Linked DNA regions of Homo sapiens. The protein of the gene in region 4 purifies or fractionates together with the protein of the main gene of each other region. This does not show direct contact. Each region holds a gene or a part of one and is shown on either strand. Other genes may lie near its edges.

Evidence for each region.
Region 1: the proteins of PI4K2A (region 4) and AP1S2 purify together in Homo sapiens (affinity purification with mass spectrometry; one large-scale study listed by BioGRID and IntAct). This does not show direct contact.
Region 2: the proteins of PI4K2A (region 4) and TXNRD2 purify together in Homo sapiens (affinity purification with mass spectrometry; one large-scale study listed by BioGRID and IntAct). This does not show direct contact.
Region 3: the proteins of PI4K2A (region 4) and ALDH1A1 purify together in Homo sapiens (affinity purification with mass spectrometry; one large-scale study listed by BioGRID and IntAct). This does not show direct contact.

What each region holds. Positions count from the first base shown.
Region 1 is NC_000023.11:15,844,814-15,848,313, forward strand, and holds part of AP1S2 (AP-1 complex subunit sigma-2), read right to left. Parts: intron 1,199-3,500; coding exon 1,090-1,198; intron 704-1,089; coding exon 566-703; intron 1-565. UniProt on the Homo sapiens protein: Subunit of clathrin-associated adaptor protein complex 1 that plays a role in protein sorting in the late-Golgi/trans-Golgi network (TGN) and/or endosomes.
Region 2 is NC_000022.11:19,914,319-19,917,818, forward strand, and holds part of TXNRD2 (thioredoxin reductase 2, mitochondrial isoform 5 precursor), read right to left. Parts: intron 1,526-3,500; coding exon 1,447-1,525; intron 959-1,446; coding exon 896-958; intron 1-895. UniProt on the Homo sapiens protein: Involved in the control of reactive oxygen species levels and the regulation of mitochondrial redox homeostasis. Maintains thioredoxin in a reduced state. May play a role in redox-regulated cell signaling.
Region 3 is NC_000009.12:72,925,554-72,929,053, forward strand, and holds part of ALDH1A1 (aldehyde dehydrogenase 1A1), read right to left. Parts: intron 3,469-3,500; coding exon 3,339-3,468; intron 1,625-3,338; coding exon 1,563-1,624; intron 60-1,562; coding exon 1-59. UniProt on the Homo sapiens protein: Cytosolic dehydrogenase that catalyzes the irreversible oxidation of a wide range of aldehydes to their corresponding carboxylic acid.
Region 4 is NC_000010.11:97,668,171-97,671,670, reverse strand, and holds part of PI4K2A (phosphatidylinositol 4-kinase type 2-alpha), read right to left. Parts: intron 1-3,500. UniProt on the Homo sapiens protein: Membrane-bound phosphatidylinositol-4 kinase (PI4-kinase) that catalyzes the phosphorylation of phosphatidylinositol (PI) to phosphatidylinositol 4-phosphate (PI4P), a lipid that plays important roles in endocytosis, Golgi function, protein sorting and membrane trafficking and is required for prolonged survival of neurons.

The sequences.
Region 1 (3,500 bases), on a different chromosome or scaffold from region 4:
AGCAAAGAGAAATGCAAATACTGTTTAGTTTTGCTAACAAAAAAAACCTGGAAGTTTCTACAAAAAGTATAATTAGAAAACACTATCATTTGCTTGGCTACTTTTGCATTTAATGGACATGAGGTAAAAATATGAGCCAATTTGGAATTAAAATGTCATAATCTCATAGTCAACTCCTGATTATCTACACTAATGAAAAAGGGGGTTATCTTAAACAATTTGAAGCAATAGATGGAGAGTTCTCAACTTACTGCTACTTTCAGCCAATCTTTTCCCTTCTTCAAATAGTCTGTCCTCTAAAGGTTTAGACTCCAGTGTTTTAGGGTCCAAAAAGGGCCATTGGGAAGAGGCCTGACCGATAGACCATCTCCAAACTGAACCATCCATCCATAGATAACTGAGTTGACGTGACTGACACATATTCCAGTCAATAAACTGCACATGGATGGACACTACATGACAAGCATGCTTCAGAGTACTTTCTGAAACTGTAAGAATGATGAATGAGACTTCCCCAGCAAGAGCAAAACATGCTAGTGCCTAGTGAAGAGAATAAGTAGCTTACCTCCTGCAGTAGATCAGCCTGCTCAATTGCTTTAAGGACATTTTTCTTGGATGTTTCCTGAACTTCCCCTCCCAAAAGAAACTCATCCAAAATAAAATAAGCCTTCTCAAAATTAAAGATGATATCTAGTTCACAGACCTGAAAAGGAAAAAAAAAAGAAAAAAGAAAAGAAAAAATTGTTAAAACTTGCAGAAGCAGAAGATGCTTATTCACTATCAGGTAGTGAATAAAATCGAACTAGAGTGAATCAATCTTAACTCTTTCTAAAAATGACTAAGTATCACTGGTTTAAGTAAGCTTAATTTCCAAATCTCAAGTACTTGAAAACATATTCCTACAAGCTAAATAAGACTGGGCTCTGCATGTTCCCAATATGGACAACTTAATAATTTCTACTAATAAATAGTCATTCCCACCCTCTCCCGCGGTTAGAATCCCCAAGACAACCAAAAAATAAACTTGTTAGAGAAAAGGTTCCAAAATATACTATGGCATTCAATTTCCTAAAATAAAATACTACTCACACTGCCGAAATACTTGTCAAGTAATTCCACATAACGATGAATTATTTCCAGGGTAATTAGTTCATTGTCCTGATCCTCAATAGCACAGCAAAAATACAGACTAGCATATCTGTAACAAAGTACAAATGTGAAAAAAACTGTTATCCTATAATGATGTTTTCTAAATATATTTTCATATCCTATTATGAAAAGCCCCAAGTTTATACAGTTTATTTCTTCTTTCACGACAGTACAGATTTTTCTCATAGACTACAAAAGTAATAAACGCATAACAGAAATTTTGAAAAGCATAGGCAAGTATAAAGAAAAAATCAAAATAATCATACCACTTAGAATAAGTGATTTTGCCCTTCTTCCTTTCAGGTTCTTTTCTATAAGCATTTTAAAACATAGCAGACCCAGGTTTTTCCTAAGTTTACTTAATTAAAACAAAATATATAGCAGATTAATTCAAACTGTAAGTACAGAGAAGAAAACAAACCTTCCAACTGAAGGAGGACTTGTTGAGGATAATGCCAAGGTGAGGTCAATATTTTGGGATATTTTATTGGAATATGTATAATATATACACAGAGAAGACCTTAAGTCCTACAAGCTCAATAAATTTTCAAAGTGAACTCAACTATATATCAGCACCCACATCAAGAAGCTGAACACTACTGAACCCTGAAACTCCTCTGCTACCCTCTCCCAGTCACAACCTCCCACCCCCAAGGGTAACTATGCTCTTGACTTCTAACAGAATAGAATTGTTTTTAAAAAGGTTTCTAGGATTGCAGAATAAACCATACGAAAAGAACAACAGCTCCACGTTATTACAGAAGTTAGAGAAAGAGAACAGAAAGTTCCTATCACTTAAGGGAAACAGAGGCCTGTTCTCAAATTTACCAAGTTCTACACTGTTGAACTGAAGTGTAGTTTATTTACCCTAGAAGAGGGAATAAGGTTGGGAAACTTATATTCTCCTTCAAATTAGGATTCTAGCATATGGAATCATGTTATGCTTGACCCAAGGAAGCAAAACTTCAACCCTGAGGCATAGCAAGTCCTTTGAGGAGGATTAAAAGGGCATTTTAAAATGGTTTACATGTACTTAAGGCTTTTGAAAAGAAAGAAAATAAAAACCTAAGATAGGCTAAACACAGAACATTTCAGTGGAGATTATAATTTTCACTGAAGATCACTTAAATGATTTTTAGAAAACACAATGGGCAGTTACTGCTCGTAGCATTAATGTAAAATAATACTGTATACAGAATAACACAACCTGTTTTGAGACTCAATGAATTCTTGCTCCTTAGTATGAAAATAACTAGTATTCACACAACAGCATTAATTTCATTATTAAAACCATTTCATCTTATTTGATGTTTTCAACAGCAAGTACTATCTTTCATCCTTGATCACAGATTAAAAAAAGACAAAAAAAAAATGAGGCTTAAGAGTACAGCGCCTACAAGTGCTAGTACTGGGATAAGAAACCTGATCTTTTGACCTTAACTCCAGGCCTTTTTCCACTGTATCATACAAACTCACTTGGCATATATATCATGAGTTTGTGCATGTCTACTCTACCTGACTTCCACACTCAGTAAGTTATTTAAAATGGTGGAGCTACTGCAGTCTTATTGAGAGGAGGTATTCACATGTGTTCATTTATCATCATTGTGAAGGGAATAAGTCATGGAAGACAAAACAGGGCATCAATGCCAACTTTAACAAAGTGCTCCCTCTCTTTCCCATCGTTACTGTTTTTGTTTGTCTATTTAAAAGAGAATAGAGTATTCCAACTCTCCATCCTCCCTAACCCATGCTCATTAAATAGAACTTTGAATTTGAGGAAACTGATAAATGACACATAAGATTCCCTGATTTAAGAAAACTAAACATTAAAGGGACTGACATAAAAATGGTAGATTAAAAACCAGATATGACTAGCTGATAGGAACAGAATGCTAAATAATTTATTATACAAAGTTTACTAACAGTTTCAAGTAAAATTCCTTTTATTTAAGATTTCCTCATGCTACTATTAAACAAGCTAATGCTCGTACCATCCTCGCTCCTTATCCACAGTACTGCCTCTTTACTTACAAATAAAAAGCACTTAAACACTAGTCAAAGGTCCTAAACTGCATGAATCACTTGGAAGCATTAATTTAAAAATCATCAGAAACAATGTGTCTAAGCCCCAGCCAGTAATGTTTACTTTCACTCGGAATGGAAAAAGAATAATCAAATTAATGAATTCTTTGGTGTAGGTGAACAGATAGCTATCAGGATAATAATGTACCTCTTTCCAGAAAGCTTAGGGCAGGAAAAAAACAGAAACATAATAATTAAGTACCATTCACTGAATCCTCGCCCTACATGAGACATTAAATGTTAGCTAAGGCTTTTGCATATTTTAC
Region 2 (3,500 bases), on a different chromosome or scaffold from region 4:
CATAATAGCTAAAAAGTGGAAATAACACATGTGTTTATCCAAGCAAGTAGATAAACAAAGTGTGGTCTATCCATACAATGGAATAGTATCTAGCCATAAAAAGGAATGATACTGACACACACTACAATGTAGGTGAACCTGGAGGATGTTATGCTCAGTGAAGTAAGCCAGTCACTAAGGGACACACACATACGAGTCACTAAGGGACACACACGTACCAGTTACATGAGAAGGACTTACATGTACGATTTCACTTACACGAGGTGCCTAGTGTTGTCACATTCATAGAGACAGAAAGTAGGTGGTGGTTTCTAGGGGCTGGGGGAGGAGGCGCTGGGGAGTAGGGTTTAATGGGAATAGTTTCAGTTCAGGGATGATGGAAGGAGTTCTGGCAATGGATGGTGGTGACTGATGGCCGCACAGCTCTGTGAATGTACTAAAAACCACTGAATTGTACCCTAAAAAAGGCTAAATTTTATAGCGTGTGAATTTTATTTCAAACTTTTTTTAAACTGGGGGACGTGAAGGAGGAAGATGAAGAATGAGGCTTATATCCTGAATGTTCCAACATTCTGAGGCTGAAGGGAAAAGGGGGAATCAGCAATGGAGACTTAGGAAGCAGGATCCTGGTGTGGAAGGGGACAGATCCAGCGGGGCAGGGGGAGAGCAGAACGAGAGCTGTCCTGAGGATCTGGCAGCGTGGAGGCCACTGGGGACCCCACATTTCAGCAGTGTGGATTCAAGAGAATTGGAAAGCAGAAAGTGATGATAGTGAGTATAGGGGGAAAGGGTGTGCAAGCTGCTGCTGTGGGAAGCACGTGTGTAAAAACGTATCCCTCAAAGAGGCCGGGAATGGGCCACGGCAGCAGGGACGCTATGCTCTGGGGACACTCACGTGCGTGGGGTATCTCGGCCGCCCTCCAGTAGCAATGATGATGTGATCGGCTGACAGCAGAATCTGAGGAGAAAAAGAGAAAGCCGTGGGTCAGACAGGTGCATGGTGATCACCCCACCGGAGGGCCTGAGCACCACAGACCTTGGCCAGCAGTTCCCACGGCCCCTGCCCTGTAGCGTGGACCCTTGGCCAGCAGTTCAGAGGCCCTATGGAGCTGGAATCCCATCAACCATCAGCCTGGCAGGAGGGGGACAGGCAGAAAGCACAGGGAGATGTTCTAACTCCAAGCACTTCAAGGCACCCTCAAATCCCCAAAAAATCCTGCAAAAAGGGTGTGGTCACCAACCCTGTTGCCATGCCACTCCGAGCAGCAGGGCAGCAAATTATTTGATCACGTTAAAGACAAGTGCCCAGCCTCAAAAGAAGCCACCTTTTTGATTCCAGCAGCACGTGTTACTAAGAACAGCACCCAGGCCAAACACAGCTGCAGTTGGTGCCCAAGGTCTGCAGAAGGGTCCACAAGGAGCCACGCGAGTAAGTCAGATGCTCACCTCTTTCCCACCTTTGGCAACGCCGCAAACCGTGTGCTCGTCAACAAAGCTGGCTTTGATGTTAAAGTACTTGACTTTTCTGAAAGATAAAGATAAGATTTTCAAACACTTCCTCTGCAAATTAAACCTCACCAACTGGATCAATAGGGAACACTGGTAAAAGGGAGCTCCAGCCCCCAGCAGGGCCTGGTGCTGTGGCTCAGATGGACCAAGAGGTAAGCGGCAACCATGCTGAGAAGCATGGAGGGGATGTGGGGGCACCTCGCCTGTCCCCCAGGGATCCCAGGGACATGTTAACCACAGGTGTCAAAGCAGGGACGGAAGCCAGCTCAGCACGGTCCTAAGAGGCCACGTACAGCCCTGGTGTGCAGCAAGAGGTGGCTGGACCTCTCTTGGGGACAGTCCTCATCACCCGGACATGTTCCAGCAGGGAGCTGTGGTGCCCACCAGATGGTGTCACCTTCTGATTTCAGGGGTGTGGTAACACCAAGAGAACGGGCATGACAAGGCTGGCAAAACAGTGGCTGGGAGCATAGTGCACAGAAACAAATGACCCACGCTTTCTTTTCTTTTTTTTTTTTCTGAGTCAAAGTCTCACTCTGTCGCCCAGGCTGGAGTTCAGTGGCACGATCTTGGCTCACTGCAATCTCCACCTCCCAGGTTCAAGCCATTCTCTTGCCTCAGCTCTTGCCTCAGCCTCCTGAGAAGCTGGGATTACAGGCTTGCGCCACCACGCCTGGCTAATTTTTGTATTTTTAGTAGAGACGGGGTTTCGCCATGTTGGCCAGGCTGGTCTTGAACTCCTGACCTCAAGTGATCCACCCACCTCAGCCTCCCAAAGTGCTAGGATTACAGGCATGAGCCACCGCGCCCCACCCTTTTTTTTTTTTTTAAAGACATCTTCTCACTCTGTCACCCAGGCTGGAGTGCAGTGGCATGATCATAGCTCACGGAAGCCTTGTTTCAAGTAACTGGAACTATAGGCATGGGCAACCATACCTGGCTAGTTCATTTTATTTTTTGTAGGGATGTAGCAATAAAACTATGTTGCTCAGGCTGGTCTCCAACTCCTGGGCTCAAGTGATCCTCCCACCTCAGCCTCCCAAAGTGCTAGGATTACAGGCATGAGCCACTGCACCCGACCAACACTTTCTAATGACAAAAGGACCGTGCTGCAGCAAGGGTTCTGGGAAGGCTCTGCCTCCTGCTTGAGCCTGCCTTCTCCCCACTGGCAAGCCTGTGCCTCTATGGGCTGTCTGAGCTGCGTGAAGTTCCTACAGCAAGAGCCCTTCAATCACCTCGACAGCCAGGAAGCTGCCACGGGACACAGCCGGGCAATGCTCATGGCAGCACTTTTCAGAAGAGTGAAAAAGCAGAAACAGCCCAGGTGCGCCCCAGCCTCCTTCTGCAGGTGGCTCCGGAGCAGGCAGTGGGCTGGGCCTGTTTGGTGCCCGTCCAGGAGCTGCCCAGGGCAGGGAGGAGGGAGGGCAGAGCCTGCTGTCCCCAGGAAACTGTACCAGGGGATACAGAGCCCCACAGAGAAACACAGAAATGCCACAGCACAATGTGGCTTAGCTCCCTGGATAGGGGAGAGCTTGTGAGGTCCAGGTGGAGGGCAAGCAGTTGGCTTCCTGGCTCCACTTTCCTGGATTTAGTGAGCACAAAACTGCTGCCTGCTGTGAAGCCCCAGGAAGACCCGCCCTGGGGCCAAGCAAATGGTGCATGAGGAGAGCCACCAGACCTCTGCGGGACCACTGTCCCCTCCACAGCCCCGGGAGAAAGGCTGGGCCAGAGGCGGTACCAGTTTCAGGCATCTGCTGTGCTGGCAGCTGAGCCCCAGGAGAAGGTTGTAGGCCAGGGGAGCATAGGCCTCTGTGCTGGAGATCCCCAGGGGCTGACAGGAACGGTGACCAAGTAGGGACATTTGCTCCAGCGGAAAGCACCAAGCTCCTGCACCCACACCCAAGGAGCTGGAGGTGTGCAGTAAGAAGGGGGTTCACGGGGTGGGGGCTTGCCACTGGGATGACCCTCACCACATATTAGCCCCAGGCCTA
Region 3 (3,500 bases), on a different chromosome or scaffold from region 4:
TTTCCACAGCTCAGTGCAGGCCCTATCTTCCAAATGAGCATAACCAACGGGAAATTCCACTAGAAAGCAATATGTAACAATAGATTCTTTGTATTGCAAAAGGCATATTTGCTAATCCAACTTCCATATTATACACCCCCTGTAGATGTTATGTAATAATTGCGTAGTTTTGTGAAATCATCTGGCATATTATACTTCATTGCTAAAAGCAACTAGTAAATGCTAAAACGCTCTGAATAAACCAGATATGAGATATGAGAAGGAAATAGGAGAGAACCTCAAAATTTAATCAAGTACTGTTGAGTTCTTTTTCTACCAGGAAAAAAAAAATCACTGCATGGTTTGGCTTATTATGGAGCACACTGTAAGTTATCTAAAAATGTTTAAAAAGGATGATTACTCTCCTTCTCCATAAGTCATTTATTGTAATTATTTACCCAATAATATTATTTAGTAGCTTTTATTTCCAGGAAAAATACCTTGCTAAAGACAAAGATGTCCAGGGTCCAGAGGCCAAGTACTTGGGTTCAAATCTCAGCTCAATCACTGACCAGCCATGTGAACTCACACAGGTTACGTGCTCTCTGTATCTGATTTCATAATCTGTGAGTGCTGATAATAGTCCTCTCTGCCTCAGAAGGCTGTCTTGAGCATTAACCAAGAAAGAGGGCCAGGGGCTCAACACAATGACTGGTCTAGCATAGACAAGTAGTACATATCAGCTATTATCAGTGTTCATAATTATATAGTTTTTATCGATTTATTGGGACTTTTGAATTAATAAGCAATTTCACTAAAATATTGATATGAATATATTTCAATCTCATTGGAGCCAAAGATAAGTCTTGACCATTTCTTCACATAAGGACTTCGCTACCATTTTTTTGTTTGGCCTTTTAAAGCATGTCAGTTAAAATAAAATCATTTAGATAGTGTCCTGTTTGTTGGGCTTAAAAAATCTTCACAATCCTCTTAAAAAGGCTACTTTCCTCTAAGAGTAATATGGAGGATCTGAGCCTCTTATCTAAAGGTAAAATATATTCCATGCAGTGCTTCAAATGCCTCTGGTATTCTTTTTTCCATTTTGATTAAAAAATGTGTGTCATGAGTTGAACACTCTGGGAGCTACTGTTCTGCATGATGAGATGTCTCAATGAGAAAGTGCGTTGGAGAATAGTAGGCCCCACTACATTCCACCAAAATGCTATCCTGCAGATGTGCAGTGGAGAGCACCTTGCCATATACATGTAAAGCTTGGCTCTTATAAAGAGTACATAATACAACTTTTAATAAAACAACCCATAGAGTAAAGGGTTAACATTTATGGATGATGTAGTATTAAAACATTCTCAAGAGATATGCCAGAATATAGATAGGTTTTCGGACTACCTAATTCATATGCAAGAAGTTTAGTCACAGGGAGACCAAGTTCAACAAATCTTACATTTACTCCACATTTAACAAATACATAAGCATCCATCTGTTTTAGAGAAAGCTTCATCATTAGATAGAATAAGAACTCTTCTTTTTAAAATTGAGAATTATATAGGAGAAAAGCTTACAGGAATGATTTGGCCACATACACCAATAGGTTCATGTCTTGTATATGTAAAAAAATTTCCATCTGAAAAATAAAACACACACAATCATATATAAACAAATGTATTTGACATTCACAAAATGGTGGTTGGTGATGTGAGAGAAAGGTGTAGACAATAATTTTAAAAACATATATCTGGCCAGGTGTGGTGGCTCACGCCTGTAATCCCAGCACTTTGGGAGGCCGAGGCAGGCAGATCACGAGGTCAAGAGATCGAGACCATCTATATCTCCAACTATTCCCAAAATGGTAAGTGAAGCCCTAAAATAGTAATTCGAAATGATAGGAACCATAAAATTGAGTTAGGTGAAATCAAAGAGGCAAAATTGGCAAAAATCTGAAAGATAATTAATTCCACCTTTCATCTTCTAGGAGGCCTGATTTGAAAATTATCTTTATTCTCTAAGTGTTATAAAAAAGGGACGAGAAAGGAAGTAGGAGGTCTCTGGCGAAGAGAAGAACCACATTCCAATTTGTTTCTGGTAGCTCAAAGTTCTACCAATAAGAGAATTCTTTTTAAAAGTTATAATATAATTTTTAGAAATAGTAAAATTAAAAACAGTAGAATTAAAAAGAAAATCTCCCTATGAGTAATAAGCCTTTCCTACTGACTTGTTCTAAAATGTATTTTATTTGCCTACCAAACAATAATAGCAAATTCTCTAAATACATGAAGAAAATGACAGGAGTATAAGACATTTATTTTCAATCTAAATTTGACCAATTTATGTGCCCCGAAGTTTAATGTGGTCATCCAGAGAGATACATTATGCTTTACATTCAATTCTGTTCTAGTTCCCACAGAAGCTTCCTGGTTTCAGCAAGGACTCTCTTCATCAAGATCTATTTGTGTTTTAAGTGACTTCTCCCATTTTGTCCCGGAGTAAAGTAGGACAGTTCTAAAGTAGCCACATTTCTTAGTACCACCGAGGTCTTACTCTCCTCTCAACTTTCTGCTATCACTTCTGACCTCCTGCATGCTCCAATTGGATTGGAAGTGCACATCAGGGCCAGTCCTGGAGGGTATTGTATTCCTAAAGTTCATAGGTTTGCCTGAATTAAATTCCACCCATACTGTTTCCTAAATGTGTGTGTTTTCATGTTTCACATGAAATATCTTTAGTATTTCTACTCCATTATGTGCATACCCCACTAAAATAACACATACGTACAGATTCACACACACAAACCCTTAACTTAGGCTGCAAACACAGTCCCATCTTGCTTTGAAGATATTTGAAACGAGTCCGTGTGAACTGGCTTGTTTGATTAGTCTGGTCTAACTACACTGAGTTTGACCAGGCACAGATGACCATAACTGACTTATACTGGAACATGTAAAGAGGCTTAAATAATTACATTACAGAAAGGATATAAATGTCAGTATTGGAATAAAACCCAAATAAATAATTTCAGAGGTCAGCTTTAAAAAGTTTGGGACCTTAGAGAGGCAATTGCCTCAGATCAGTAATTACTGCCAAAGGAATGTTCTTACTTTGACATTTTCTAAAATATCTATAATGTTATCTTCATGATTATGCTGAAACAACTTTAAAAGACCTTTTATGAATTTTAATAGAACTTCTAAGTTGAAAACTGTGTTGTCTCAAAGTCAAGAGGAAAATAATTTTGCCTTATTTGGTTGACATCTTTAAAAGGGAGAGTTTGAAATTATTCAGCTCTATAGTAAACTCCTCGCTCCTATCCTCACCATTAGTGGTTTCTCAAAGATACTTACCAATTGGTATTGTACGGCCCTGGATCTTGTCAGCCCAACCTGCACAGTAGCGCAATGTTTTGATGCAGCCTGCTAAATCATTCAGATATGCATTGGAATAGAGTTTTCCACCATTCATTGACTCCATTGTCTGAAAAACATGTCAAACACCAAATCTAAAAT
Region 4 (3,500 bases):
AAGACTCCATCTCAAAAAAACAAACAAACAAACAAACAAAAAGTAAAAAGCCAACATTTTATTTGGATTCTCCTTCTAACACTATCTCTTCATCACCTTTTTTTTTAAATAAATGTTTTACTTTGGAATAATTTTAAATTTAGAGAAAAGTTGCAGATTGTACAAAGAGTTCCTATATAGCATTTGCCCAGTTTCCCCTAATTTTTTTTTTTCTTTTCTGAGACAGGGTCTCACTCTGTCACCCAAGCTGGAGTACAGTGACACATTCATAGCTCACTGCACCCTCCAACTTCTGGCCTCAAATGACCCTCCCAATTTGGCCTCCCAAAGTGTTGGGATAACAGGCATGAGCCACTGAGTCCAGTCCTCACCATCTTTTGTCAGTATTTTACAGGTATTTCAGTTATGTGTCCATGAGGACACAGTTTCTCCTCTTTGTCAAAATTAGTATCACCACCATTTATCTTCTCTGGTAGGAGAGTACAAAAGCTGAAGGTGTCCTGTCTTCTCTCTCTCTCTCTTTTTTTTTTTCTGAGACGGAGTTTCGCTCTTCTTGCCCAGGCTGGAGTGCAACGGCACAATCTCGGCTCACAGCAACCTTCACCTCCTGGGTTCAAGCGATTCTCCTGCCTCAGCCTCCCGAGTAGCTGGGATTACAGGCATGCACCACCACACCCAGCTAATTTTGTATTTTTAGTAGAGATGGGGTTTCTCCATGCTGGTCAGTCTGGTCTCGAACTCCCAACCTCAGGTGATCCACCCGCCTCGGCCTCCCAAAGTGCTCGGATTACAGGCATGAGCCACCACGCCTGGCCCTATCTTCTTTAAAACACTAGATGTTGAAGATTTCATGGCCAGGTCACAGAACATGGAGGGGTAAGCTAGGCTGCACCCTGAAATCACACAGACACACAGCCCTCAAGCCACAAATATCCTCTTACACAACTGCTGCCTATAAAGGAGCAGAGATACAACTGCAACAGGGGTCATTTGTTACCCTATTGGTAACAAATTTCTTTTTTACTTAATTGTTTTGGTACTTGCCAGCATCCTACACTGTTCCAAATAGTCTGAAGCACAATATTGGGGTGAAGAACTAAAAGGAGATTGCGGGAGTATCTGGGGTAAACATGTCAAATTGTCTACTACTTATTTTCAAAAGATTTGGCAAAAAAGAATATCTAGGGAGAGAAATTAAATAGATATTATTCAGATACATCACTGGATAATACGTAGACATATGAGATAAATGTGGTTAAATATAACAACTGAAGAATCTAGAAGATCCCATTCTTTCAACTTTACTGAGGTTTGAAAATTTCCAAATTAAAAAGCTGAAGATAAGCCTGGAACCAGGACTGAAAAGAAAGGAGAATAAAGAATTTAAAAAGAAAAATTATTTTTTAAATTTGAAGAAAAATTATAGCAGTCACATAATACTAAAGAATAAATACTATCTTTGAAAATGTTGGGCTGGATGTGGTGGCACATGCCTATAATTTCAGCACCTTGGGAGGCCAAGGCAGGAGGATCGCTTGAGGCCAGGAGTTTGAGACCAGCCTGGGCAACATAGCGAGACCCCACCTCTTAAAAAAAATTACCCAGAAATGGTGGTGCATGCCTGTGGTCCCAGCTACTCAGGAGGCTGAGGGGGGAGGACTTCTTGAACCTAGGAGTTCAAAGCTGCAGTGGTCTACAATTGGGCCACTGCACTCCAGCCTAGGTGACAGAGCATGACCCTGTCTTTAAAAAAAAGAAAAGAAAAAGAAAATGTTACAGAGGCTTTCTCTCAGACCCTAGATTCTTTAACTCCCGGTGAGAAGCCTTTAAGTTGAGTAACAACTTCTATCACCTGACTGTGTCCCTGTGGGGCCTCTTCACTCTTTCCCTACATCTCAGGGCCCTTGTACTACAGCCCATCCTGCAATAATGGCTCAGCTATGTAGACAGGGTTATGACCTCTTTTCTCTGTGCTTTGTCAGATTTCTGTAGTGCAGAAATTTTGTAGTGCACACATTTTGCTTTGATGTGTGAATGGTAGACAAGTAAGCACATGAGTGATATACTGGCCATGTACATGTTGGAAGGAGCTGGATGGTCACCCTAAGGTAGTAGGCACTTTAGGTTACAAGATACCAAAAGCTCCTCTGAAGACATTAGGAGCACAAGATGGAGATAAATAAAACTGCACTACCCCAACCTCCCTACCATCCTGAATAATGGCACTATCTGAGTAATGGGAGAAGGGTTGGCAAGGGACTGAGCTGGGATGGAATTAGATAAGACATTGCAATACGGACAGAGGCACAGCCTATATCAACTGGAGAAGCCAGTTTACTCCTTTATGCTGAGTTCCATAACATCTGAGTCTATCACATGGCTTTTAATGCTTCCAAAAATTCTGCCAGCCTAATTGGGCCCTTACATTACTTGGGAAATGTAGGAATACCATGTTACTGGTATTCAGACAGCTACAATAATTGTAGTTCTTAAAACCTCTGTCCAGGCCGGGCTCAGTGGCTCACTCCTGTAATCCCAGCACTTTGGGAGGCCGAGGCAGGCAGATCACCTGAGATCAGGAGTTTGAGACCACCCTGGCCAACATGGTGAAACCCCATCTCTACTAAAAATACAAAAATTAGCCAGGTGTGGTGCCATGCACCTGTAATCCCAGCTACTTGGGAGGCTGAGGCAGGAGAATCACTTGAACCTGGGAGGTGAAGGTTGCAGTGAGCCAAGATCGCACCACTGCACTCCAGCCTGGGTGACAGAGTGAGACTCTGTCTCAAAAGAAAAAAAAAACCTCTGTCCAACCCCCTTCCAGGGAAAAATGGGCTCAGCAAACCCAGGAGGTGCTGTCATCAGAGGTCTTTAGATAAATGGCAGGAAGAAGTAAATGCAGAATTAAGGCTGAGAAGATCCTCTTGCCCTTTAAAGATGGGAGAAGCTGAATTTTCTGTATACAAAAATCATAATCCTAACAGCTATTAATACTACAAATTGAGTATTTTAGTATACCAGGTACTACTCTAACTGTTTCAAATCATTTATCTCATAATAATTCTGTAAGGTGGGTACCATTATTATTATCTTGAGACAGGTTCTCACTCTGTCCCCTAGACTGGAGTGCAGTGGTGCCATCTCAGCTCACTGCATCCTAGACCTCCCAGGCCCAAGCAATCCTTCCACCTCAGCCTCCTGAGTAGCTGGGATTACAGGCGTGCGCCACCACACATGGCTAATTTTTGTGTTTTTTGTAGAGATGGGGTTTCACCATGTTGCCCAGGCTGGTCTCCAACTCCTTAGCTCAAGTGATCTGCCCACCTAAGCCTCTCAAAGTGCTGGGATTACAAGTGTGAGCCACCATGCCTGGTCTCAGCTACTATTATTGATCCCACATTAAACATGAGGAAACTAAGGGAAGGAGAGATTAAGTAACTTGCCCAAAATCTCACAGGTAGTAAATGGCAGAGCCAGGCTTCAAAAACCCAGGCACTGTG